Regions from separate parts of the Homo sapiens genome. Here region 2 is linked to region 1. Evidence: fine-mapped expression QTL. A gene starts in region 1. The other region holds a variant in brackets. All regions are shown on one strand. Distances are between the middles of the regions. Region 1 holds the start of SC5D (sterol-C5-desaturase). Region 2 holds the start of LOC105369533 (a long non-coding RNA gene).

Region 1 (5,385 bases):
ACAGACAGGACTCAAAGTCATCCCTCTGAGGCTCACCTGACACAAATGGATTTCTGATTGCTTCCTCTGCCCTATTGTTTATGTAAACATGCAGATTCACTGAGCCAGACGAAATGTGTGCATTCAGTGGAAGGCTAATCAAGGACTCAAAATAATGCAACCTTTGTCTCTTATCTGCTTCTAACCTGGAAGCCCCCACTGTGAGTTGTCCCGCCTTACCAGACCCAACCAATGTACTTCTTACACATATTGATTGATGTCTCATGTCTCCCTAAAATGTATAAAAGCAAACTGTGTCCCCGACCACCTTGGGCACATATTGTCAGGGCTTCCTGAGGCTGTGTCACGGGTGAATCCTTAACCTTGGCAAAATAAACTTCCTAAATTGACTGAGACCTGTCTCAGATATCTGGGGTTCAAAACGGGTTCAATGTAGATCTTAAAACCTAATTATCTGTGGCTCATCTTCTATCTTAGATATAAGCAATAGGCCACATGTAAATATAAATGTGAAGTTCAAAAGCGAGCCTGGTTAGTATACAGGTAGTAGTTGAAGTTATAGGGGTGAAGACTGCCAAGGGAGGTGGTGTAGCAGGGACAGGGTACTACGTAATATCAGATAACATAAACATTTAATAATTGAAAAGGATATTGCTATATCACTAAAGGTTGGTAACAGCTGATGAGCCAATCTACATGTTCCCCACAGTGCCATGTGGCCCTACTTCAATACAATACCTAGAATAGTATCGTGCAACCAAAAAGAACACAAACATGTTTGATTGCTGTGAGGTTTAGAGACTAAGTAGACTTTTGACATTTGACCCAAGAAAGGTACTCAATAAAATAGCATCTATATGATTATCACTGTTAAGGCCGTCAAAAATGCGTCAAAATTACTTCAATAGAAGATAAAATAGGTGCCACTTGATTTTTGTTTGAAAAATAACTGACAGTAGTTGATAGTAATATTTAATATATACTAGGTAATATAAATATTTTAAATATATTAACTAATTTTCCCTTTCAAGAAGCCTCAAAGGTAGGTACTAGTATTATTTTATAGATGAAGAAGCTGGGCACAGAAATTTTAAGTAACTTGCATAGGGTCATAAGAGTAAATAAATGCTGGAGCTAGGATTCAAATACACACAATCTAGTTGCAAAGTACGTGAACTTCTGCCAAGTTCTATAGCCTCTTCACCACTACTTCAAGTCGTCAACTCCTGAATTTTTAAAAATGTTCAGTGCCTCTACAAGCTCATATAATTTTAAGGGGTTATAAGCCCTGAAGTTAGGGGTCCCAAGGACCCTAAATTAAGTACCACTGCTTCAAACAGAAACTTAAATACTTTGTCCTTGCAGAATTAAAGAAACTTCTTCTTAAAACTCAGTTATAATAACAATATTAGGCTTAGAACAACTCAGTCTACCATTATCTTTTTGCCCTACTTTAAAAGTATAGAAAATGATAGCTAATATTTATTGAGAACCAGGTATTATTTTTGTATAACCTCATCTAATCCCTATACCTCTATGAGATAGGTACTTCTATGCTCCCCACTTTATAGATAGGGAAACTGAGGTCAGAGTATTTAAATAACTTGTTCAGTAGCAAGCAACAATAACAGAAAAAACCAGCTGGGATGTACATTCCACAACCTTTCTCTTTGCTACCACGTTATGTTATCTCTCAAGATGTTTTATATGCAGATGAGGGATTCTGAGTACCACCCCATGCTAATTAATTACATTACATAACGAATGGAAAAGCACTCTGTAAATGATCAAGGATCAGTTATTATTTACTAGGTATCAATCATTAGAAACTTTAAAAAATGATAGTGATATAAAGACAAATAACTTCCAGAGGGTTTCCTCTAAAAGTACCGAGCTGCCACAAACTTTCCAGTTTGGAAACTCTATGTACTGAGGTCTTGTTTTCTTCACTTACACCACCTCCAAATCTACTCTGCTGTAACACAGGGATGTCAGTATACATTATTTTTCCTTTTATGATGCAAAAGGAACAGATTATTTCCCTTTTCCTTTCAGTCTCCTCAGCCCCAGATTGCTGTCCCTTCATTCTAATTACGCCGCAGCAACAGAGGCTTGCAATGGTCAGGAGTTCTGATACCGACCAGTTCTTCAGCCTGATTCTTCTGGCCTTTAAAAGAAAAAAACCCTCCCAGAACGAAGGGAAAAGTAAAGCATTCGTGTTCAGCAGCCAGACCAGAATTCCCTTGAGTAAGAGATCTGCAACACCCAACATCAAACACTGCATTTTCTTTAAGCCCGTCCACGGTCGGCTCCTTCAAGTCCAGGCCTCCCTATCGGCCCCGCGATCCCTCCCAGCGCGAGCGGAAGGCCCCTCCGCCCGGACTCCCAGGTGGCGCAGCCCTCCAGGCCCCGAGGTCCCCCGGCCCAGCCCTCGCCGCCAGTCTTCGGGATGCCAGGCTACCTGCCAGCCTCTCCTCTCACTCGGCGCAGGACTCGGATCCGTATGCTACCGCGATCCTACCATCCGCCCAACGCCTAGCACCCAGAGGGCACTCGCTAACCAACCGCGGCGCGGAGAAAAGCCGTGCTGCGAGGACACCTTCCGCCTCGCCCACCCGAGTCCCAGGCGCTGAAGTCTCTCCATCTTCTTTTATTCCATCGCCCCCCGGCCCAGCCCGCTCAGGTGTATTCCGCTTCCTTCCCCGCCCACCCACCGTCCCCACCTGGAGGTGGTCCGCCGCCGCTCCGCACGCCACTGCTCTGCAAACTGTCCTAGCAGCTGGGCAGCCAGCAAGCGGGCCGGGAGGCTGGAGCGGCCAGCCAATCAGCGACCGGCGCCATAAGCTGATATGACGGCAGATCGCGCGAAGGGCCTGCGCGCAGCTCTCCGCGGTCACGTGGGCGCCGCGCGCTCGGCCACGCCCCCTTTGTCCTCTGACTAAGGGGAGGGCGGGCGCCCCATCCGAGTACCTTTGCGGTGGAGGATGCGGTTTCGGGTTTTGCGTTTGTTTCTTTGCTTTCTTTTTAAACTAGCTCTTGTGTCATTCATGGTGGTACCAGGCAGGTTTACGGTGTTTATACAAACATTCCTAGAACGGGTGCCCTGCGTTGAGGGAAATAGACGACACTTCCTTTGACGCGAATGTCTGGGTCGTTTTCTCCCTCAAGGGAGGAGGTGCAGATGTTCCCAAACAGGTGCTCAAGGTTTTAAGACGTAGTCCCCCCGATTTTCTAGCGCTGAATGGCTGGAGGCTCCGCGAGCCGGTGTATGTAGGGGTCTAAATGGTGACAAGATGAGGGTAAACATGGACAGAAACCTTTTCACGATACAAGTTGTTGAAAACCAAGGTTAACGCAGATCTAATTGGCTTTGATTTGCTACACATGAATCGAGCAGCTCCGATTTCCTGAAACAGAGCTGAGCAGAGGAGGGTGGCTTCACAGGCAGAAGAGGACGGAGGAAAGCAGAAATAAGGAACCAAAAGATCTGTCGTTTCAGAGTGACTTTCCTTAAACAGAGATTAAAACAGAGGGGACTGACTTGTGATACCAGCTCAGCAACTTCAAAGTGGCAAACTGGGCCACTTTACCTATTACATAAATAATATGGGGAATACATGACAGAAATGAGGGATTTTTAAGGGAAAAAAATAACATGATTCGATCTGCCTTCAAAAGACTTTTCCGGTAGTTAAACTTCAAATGTACATAGGATACTGGACAAAGTTCAAATGAATTTAAAATAGTGTAGGTGGTTTTTTTAAAAAAGACTCATTATATAAATAAAAATAAATTTTAAAAAGTTTTGAGTGTCTACTTCGTTTAACACATCGTACTGAACACCGGGAATGGAAAGAGATGTTACAATAATGACAAAGACATGGTTCCCAACCTTAAAAAGCTTATGTGCTGTGGGAGAAATGGGCATGTATAAATAACTATGTTGCTTATTACAAGGACAGGAAATAAACAGTAATTGGTGGTATAGGCTGAGCACAGAGACAAAATGGCTATTCTGATGAGGGAAATTAGGGAAGGAACATTGTTTTGCCCAATGAAATGATTTGAATGGACACTTTAAAATGTTATTGAGCATAGATGATAAAACATTTATTAAACGAATAAAAGCTCAAAAGTGAAATGTTATAAGCAAACATCAAATATCCTGAATCTCTAGAATTTTATTGTTGAATATGCCTTAGCTATTACAAGTGGTCTTTATTCTTGGTGACTTAGGGATTCCCAAGAAATTTGCAATCACTCCTGACAACTCAAAGTAGTAATAAGTTAACCTCAAGAGAACAATCTTGTTTAAAAATAAATTTAAGTGTATTTTTTAATTATTATTTAAGTTCTGGGATACATGTGCAGAACGTGCAGGTTTGTTACATAGGTATACATGTGCCATGGTGGCTTGCTGCACCTTCCAACCCGTCATCTAGGTTTTAAGCCCTGCATGCATTAGTTATTTGTCCTAATGTTCTCCCTCCCCTTGCCCTCCACCCCCTGACAGGCCCCGGTGTGTGATGTTTCCCTCCCTGTGTCCATGTGTTCTCATTGTTCAACTCCCACAGTTGAACAACTCCCACATACTCAATGAGAATATGTGGTGTTTGGTTTTTTGTTCTGTGTTATTTTGCTGAGAATGATGGCTTCCGGCTTCATCCATGTCCCTGCAAAAGACATGAACTCATTCTTTTTTTTATGGCTGCATAGTATTCCGTGGTGTATAAGTGTATTAATAGCACATCCTGGGGTGCAGCATTCCTACATGTCTTTTCTATCCAGGCACACTGATGGATCAGGGTAATTTATTTATTCATTGTTTGCAAGGGTCTATGGTACCAACCAGCCAGTACCAAGGAATTCAGAGATAAGCCACAATACCTGCCTATGTGTCTGGATGGAACATGAACATGGAAACAAACCATTTAATCATTAAATTACTCAATTTATTTACTCAATAAATCATTATGTAATGGTGATAAGTGTCAGGCACTGTCATATGCACAGGAGATATACTGATAATCAAAACAAAGTCTGCTCTAATGAAGCTTACACACTAGTAAGGAGACAGAAAACTGATAATAAATAAATAGATATATAATACAATGTCGGACAGTGCTATGAAGAAAAAGAAAATGGGGTAAGAGAATCAAAATTAACGGAAGCTGTTAACTTCAGACAGCATGGTCAGTCAGTTTCTCTGAGAGGGCTACATTTGACCTGAACAGAGTTAGAAGTCCTCATTCACTTGGAAGATTCTAAACTGAGATTGAGTTTGAATTTTTTTCAATGAAATGTTGCCTTTCAATGCATCAATAATTTATCAGCCCACGTTCATTATATAACATTATACTTTAATGAGAACACTAAGCACTAAAC
Region 2 (5,385 bases), 55 kb after region 1:
GATGCAGAACAAGAACTGTAAAGGCGCCACTGGCCACAAGTTTCTGGGAAGAAATTCAAAACCCAAAGATCCTGTAATATTATTCACCCCTCATTACTGAAATACATTTTTCCTTGGGGCATAACAACATTTACTTTTGGCTCAGCATTTTAATTGTTTTCCACTGTTTTCTGGCTTCTGTTTTTGCGGGTAAGAGCCTGTTGGCAGTCAATTACTATTCCTCTGTAGATAATCTGTCTTTGCTCTGTCTGCTCTTAAGATAATCTCATTATCTTTATTATGCAGTTTCATTACTATTGTGTATCTTTTTACTCATGATTTCTTTTCCTGTTTCTGAGGATTTGTGCCTTCCATCAATTTTGCAAAATTCTCAACCATCATGTATTTATTTCTTCTACCTTGTTCTCATCCTGTCCTGCATGTCTATCTATCACGCTCTTTCTGTTGGGGTGATCAGACCCAACACCAGGTCATGGGGGTGACAAAGTCCGGTGGAGTCATAGGATTGAGAAAAGCTAGTTTGAGAGAGAGAAGTGGGAGTAGGGAGCCATCATGATCATGGGGGCTGCGAAGGCCCTGAGCTCTGGGAGCCCACGCTATTTATTTGTAATCCAACAAAGAAACAGGTGGTGAGAATGTGGAGGTCAAAACGGCAGGTGCATGATCTACAGCTGTGACGGTTTAGCATTTATATGGAACATGTTCTGCTACTTGAGATAATGGGAATACAATGGATCTAGGAGCCTGGGAGGGCTAGAAGCAAGGAGCCAGCAAGTCTAGACACATTCCAGAGGACATTATGTCAGTCACGCAAGCCCCATCTCAGCATTCTTCCCAACCCTCAGCATTTTTCCCAACATGCTCCCCTTCTCTTTTTTGTAAAAGAAGGTATCATTATTACTACCATTATTACTAGCCATCATTATTACTAGAGTCACTCTGGTTTGAATGCTTCCCACATATCTCCCCTTTCCCTTTTACAAGAGGATCCTTAATCCTAGGGGTTGCAAAATGATGAAGGTCCATCTTCTGTAACTTCTTTATACTGAATAGGGGCAATGATACTCCTGCCTAACCATTAGGGTCTCTTGTATTCAAGGTAGAGAGGAGCTGAGTCAGAAAGCATTGGTCCATTAAGCATCATGACTCTGGTCGGCCCTTGTTGCATCTTCTCATTCAGATTCAACTGGCTCGTGGCTCATACTGGGGGAACTCAGTGCATGGTTGGGATCCATGGGTCCCTCCAGTCTCCCATTCCATGGTCGTACACATCTTAAGGCATCCACATGGTTCATTCATCTCCCGAAAAAGCACAAGTATACCCTCACCCCCCACGTTAGTAAATCTACTGAAACAGAAGCAAAAACTTCTGTGGCTGTAGCCGGGACCATGCCGTTGCTGAAGCATTTGTTAACTCAGTTTCTGCCTCTGATTAATTACTGCGAGGTAAAACTTTCAACTGATAATGGGAAACAGGTCTTTTCTGATTAACAGAAGGCACAGAGAAAGCAAATCGAGGCTTTTCAAACCTTCAATTCGCATTATACAGGTGGGTCCACTAGATGTTGTGGCTCATGATAGATCTTCAGATGTTTGGTGGGCACCCACACAGGCTCCTGATTGTCACCTGGATAGACACAAGCAACTCCTCTTCCCCATATAATTATCTTTCCTTTTTGCCAGCTTTTTGTATGTGACCATATCTTTTTCTAAGGCCTGCAGCATTAAGATGAGTTAAAGAATGGAATGCTTGTGCATCAGCAAAGACTGCAGACACCAGTGCATCTGCCCTTTGATTATTTAAAGGACCAAAAGGTCCTGTTGGAGAGAAAAGAAAGAGCATTTTTATCCTTGCCTCCCTCCCCTCTATTCCCTTTATATTTGCCCTTTGAGCCATAGCTAATTTCATAATTCAGAATGTTCTTGTCTGTCCCTGCAAATCTCTGCTAGTCTTTGCTAGTCTCTACTTTTGTACCTCTTTAGGGCACTGATCAGTAACCTCTACTAGGGCACTGATCTTATATTGCTAGTCTTCATCTATCTCTCTACTTATCTCTATCTCTCTACTTATCTCTCTCTCTCTCTACTTATCTCTATCTGTCTCTATTTGTCTCTGTCTCTATTTGTCTCTACTTTCTTGTCTCCACTTACTTATCTCTACTTACTGACTTATCTCTGCATCTTTCTTGGAAACCTTTTTTATGACCCTGGGTAGAGCTGAAAAATCCACCCTTTATGCTTCAGCAAGAGACAAAACAGGGACCCCAGACCTGGCACCAGATTGAAGGGAACAGGAAGTGCTCTCCCCTCCCCAAAGCAGGGAAACCAGAGTTTGGCCCTTGCAGATTTCCACTCCACATCAGCATCATCCTCAATTCCCTGGAATGAATTGTTGATCATGGCAGTTAACATACTTAGCAAAACAATGACCATTGTAACATTATAGGCTCCATAAATAACATAACCAATGTTTTCAATGAATTTGTGGTTATAGTTGATGACCACTGATTTCACTTCAGAAAGTCCAAATATAGCCTAGAGCAGTGTCTTAAAACTCTGTTGTGAAGGCTTCACTTTGTTTTGCACCAATGTAGTAGTAGAGGTTGAACATTCCCATCATAAAGGCCACAAACACCACAATGAACACATTCAGCCCATATCATGCCTGTGTGCTTATTAAATCTGTTTTTCTCCAGCAGAGGCAGGTTAAACATGAAACTGAAGCTTCAAGATGACTT[G/T]ACTTGCCCTACGCAAAGCAGCGCATGATTTATTTTTTCCGGAGACTACTGCCAACCAGGCCTGTGTGTCAGTCTGTAAGCATCCAACAGCAGGTCTACTGTACAAATAGGTCTTTTGTCAGACACTTGATTAACCCAAAATACAGCCTTTCCTGTTGGATTAGTACTACCAAAGCCTCCTGTTCTTCTCACTGTGCTGCTTCCCAGCTTTATGTCAACAACTGAGCAATTCTTTTTCCTGGGGAAGCAGACCACAGAGTTGAGGAACTAATAACTAATTGAATTTCTCTGGTATAATCAGAACCAATCATTTCCGTATGCACAGTGCCACCTCTAGATCTTTCAAGTAATAGACCGACGGTTCCTGAGGGCAAGGGTCCCCCAACTCCCGTGGGGACCCTCTCCAGTGGCTCCCAGGAAGCAGGGAAATGAGAACTGTGCTGCAAAGGTCCACGGCAGCACTGCCCGCCGCGGTGGGAGACAATTGTTGCCGTTTGTAAGGGCACTGGCTGTGCCGGATATGCCTCAGTTTATTGAGGTGCTCTCTAAATAAACAAGCCTCAGATTCCACTGGGTCTTAGTACTACCAATTGCTCCAGGTTTTAATGTTGCAACTACAGGAGCGGTAAGTTTTGTAGCTAATTCATTTTCTCGCCCACTAAGGGGAGAGAGAGGAGGTGGCCATTCACTTAATTCAGCAGGTGGAGCTGAGGGGCTAGTAAAACATACCTTTTTCGGTTTCCCTTTCTTTGATTTCCTCCGGTTTCTGTTCCTCACATTCAGAATCTGAAGTTAGTTTTTTACACTCGCCCTCCTCTTCCTCATCTGAATCTGCCTCATGATCTGTTTGAAATGGCTCAAGAGCTGCTTTTATTAGTGCCCACATTGACCAAACCGAGACTGGAATATTTGCTCCACCTTTATATGTTTTTTTAAAAATCTCTGCCAATTCTCTCCCATTCATCCAACTCCATAGTCCCTTGTTCCGGGAACCATGGGCAAAACTGCTTTACTGCACTGAAGAGTGATAAATTCTGAGCACTAACTTTCACTCCCCCCTCTTCATAATAAACGCCTTAAGAAATTTAAATAAGCAGAATGTCTGCTTTCACTTTGTCCCATTGCTACCCTGGTTCTTCCCAGCACTCAGCTTTCCTGCTGAGCTTCTTTTAGACATCCTCAGGTGTCCTCTGATGATGCGTCCTCTGCTTTCACACGCTCTAGCGTTCCTTCACCGGGGTCTTTGTCACCCCACATTGAGCAGCCAGGAACGTTGGGGTGATCAGACCCAACACCAGGTCATGGGGGTGACAAAGCCCGGCGGAGTCAAAGGATTGAGAAAAAGCCAGTTTGAGACAGAGAAGTGGGACCAGCGGGCCATCACGATCGTGAAGGCCCTGAGCCCTGGGAGCCCCCGCTATTTATTTGTAATCCAACAAAGAAACAGGTGGTGAGAATGTGGAGGTCAAAAGGGCAGGCACATGATCTACAGCTGTGACAGTTTAGCATTTATATGGAACATGTTCTGCTACTTGAGATAACGGAAATACAATGGATCTAGGAGCCTAGGAGGGCTAGAAGCAAGGAGCCAGCAAGTCTAGACACATTCCAGAGGACATTATGTCAGTCACGCAAGCCCCACCTCAGCTTTCTTCCCAACGCTCAGCTTTTTTCCTTAACACTTTCTCTTTTATTAGAGACAAGATCTCACTCACTCTGTTCCCCAGGCTGGAGGGTAGTGATATGATCATGGCTCATTGCAGTCTCAAACTCCTGGGCTCAAGTGATTCTCCCACCTTAGCCTCCTGGGTAGCTGGGACTACTGGTGAGAGCCACCTACATGTCTCTTAACCATGAATTATGTTCACAAAAATCCAAACTTCAGAGTCATTTTGTATAGACCTGTGGTTACAAATTCTCAAAGGCGACTTTCTTTTTCTACTAATAACCCAGCCCAAACCAGAAAAATTTACTTCTGGTTTCCTTTGCTCTGATGTGAGTTTTTTTAGTTGGTCCATTGTCATCATGGGTATTGCTCTCCAAGGATCCTCCCTTGCTCTGGCAAGTTCATCTTCTGTCTCCCAGTAGCCATTAAAATAACCACTTTTAGGTTACCAACATTGCTAAATGCATGGGAGGCAGTGAAGGTTTTATTGTCAGCTTTCTATTCTGATTTCCAGCTCCCTTTTAGTTTTGAATGATGAGAATTTCTTTGACCTTCTATGAGGTCATTTATACTTTTATCAATATGATTATCACATTTTATCTTGTATTTCCAGATGTTTGCACTGGAAGGAATGTTTTGGCTATCTAGTCCACCATGTTCCTGGATATGTATGTCCCCAAGGTGGTTTTCATTCCATCCCACAGTTGTTGGCATTTCCTAACAATATCTCCTCAAGGGCTCCATGAGAAACAGTTACATCTGCCGTGTATTCCTCACTAACAACCCCCTCCCCAATTTTCTTTTTAATTACTGTAGTCCTGCTTAACTCTCACTACACAAAAGAATCTTTATTCACCTCTCATCATCCTGCTACTTCAGACAACACTTTAAAGGCACTGGTCCCACAGTTCTAGCTCATAAGTAGAATAAATGGAAAAAGAAAAAATATGTGTGTGTGTGTGTGTGTGTGTGTGTGTGTGC

What was found. PIP is the estimated chance that this variant, and not a neighbour inherited with it, causes the effect. A credible set is the group of variants that fine-mapping cannot tell apart.
Region 2: its variant is the best candidate, but not a certain one, in a credible set for the expression of SC5D in atrial appendage (GTEx, PIP 0.68).

Annotation. Positions count from the first base shown.
Region 1 is chr11:121,290,155-121,295,539 of GRCh38, reverse strand. SC5D (sterol-C5-desaturase) reads right to left here and starts at 2,769. Exons shown (of 5, transcript NM_006918.5): 1 at 2,724-2,769. RefSeq lists enhancers at 1-264, 2,978-3,027 and a silencer at 2,758-2,807.
Region 2 is chr11:121,235,552-121,240,936 of GRCh38, reverse strand. It overlaps LOC105369533 (a long non-coding RNA gene), which reads right to left and starts at 4,134. Exons shown (of 3, transcript XR_948108.3): 1 at 3,468-4,134. It also overlaps the pseudogene TRPC6P5. RefSeq lists enhancers at 416-964, 3,170-3,709, 3,710-4,249, 4,172-4,361, 4,250-4,789. The variant G/T (reference allele first, on the strand shown) is at 2,739.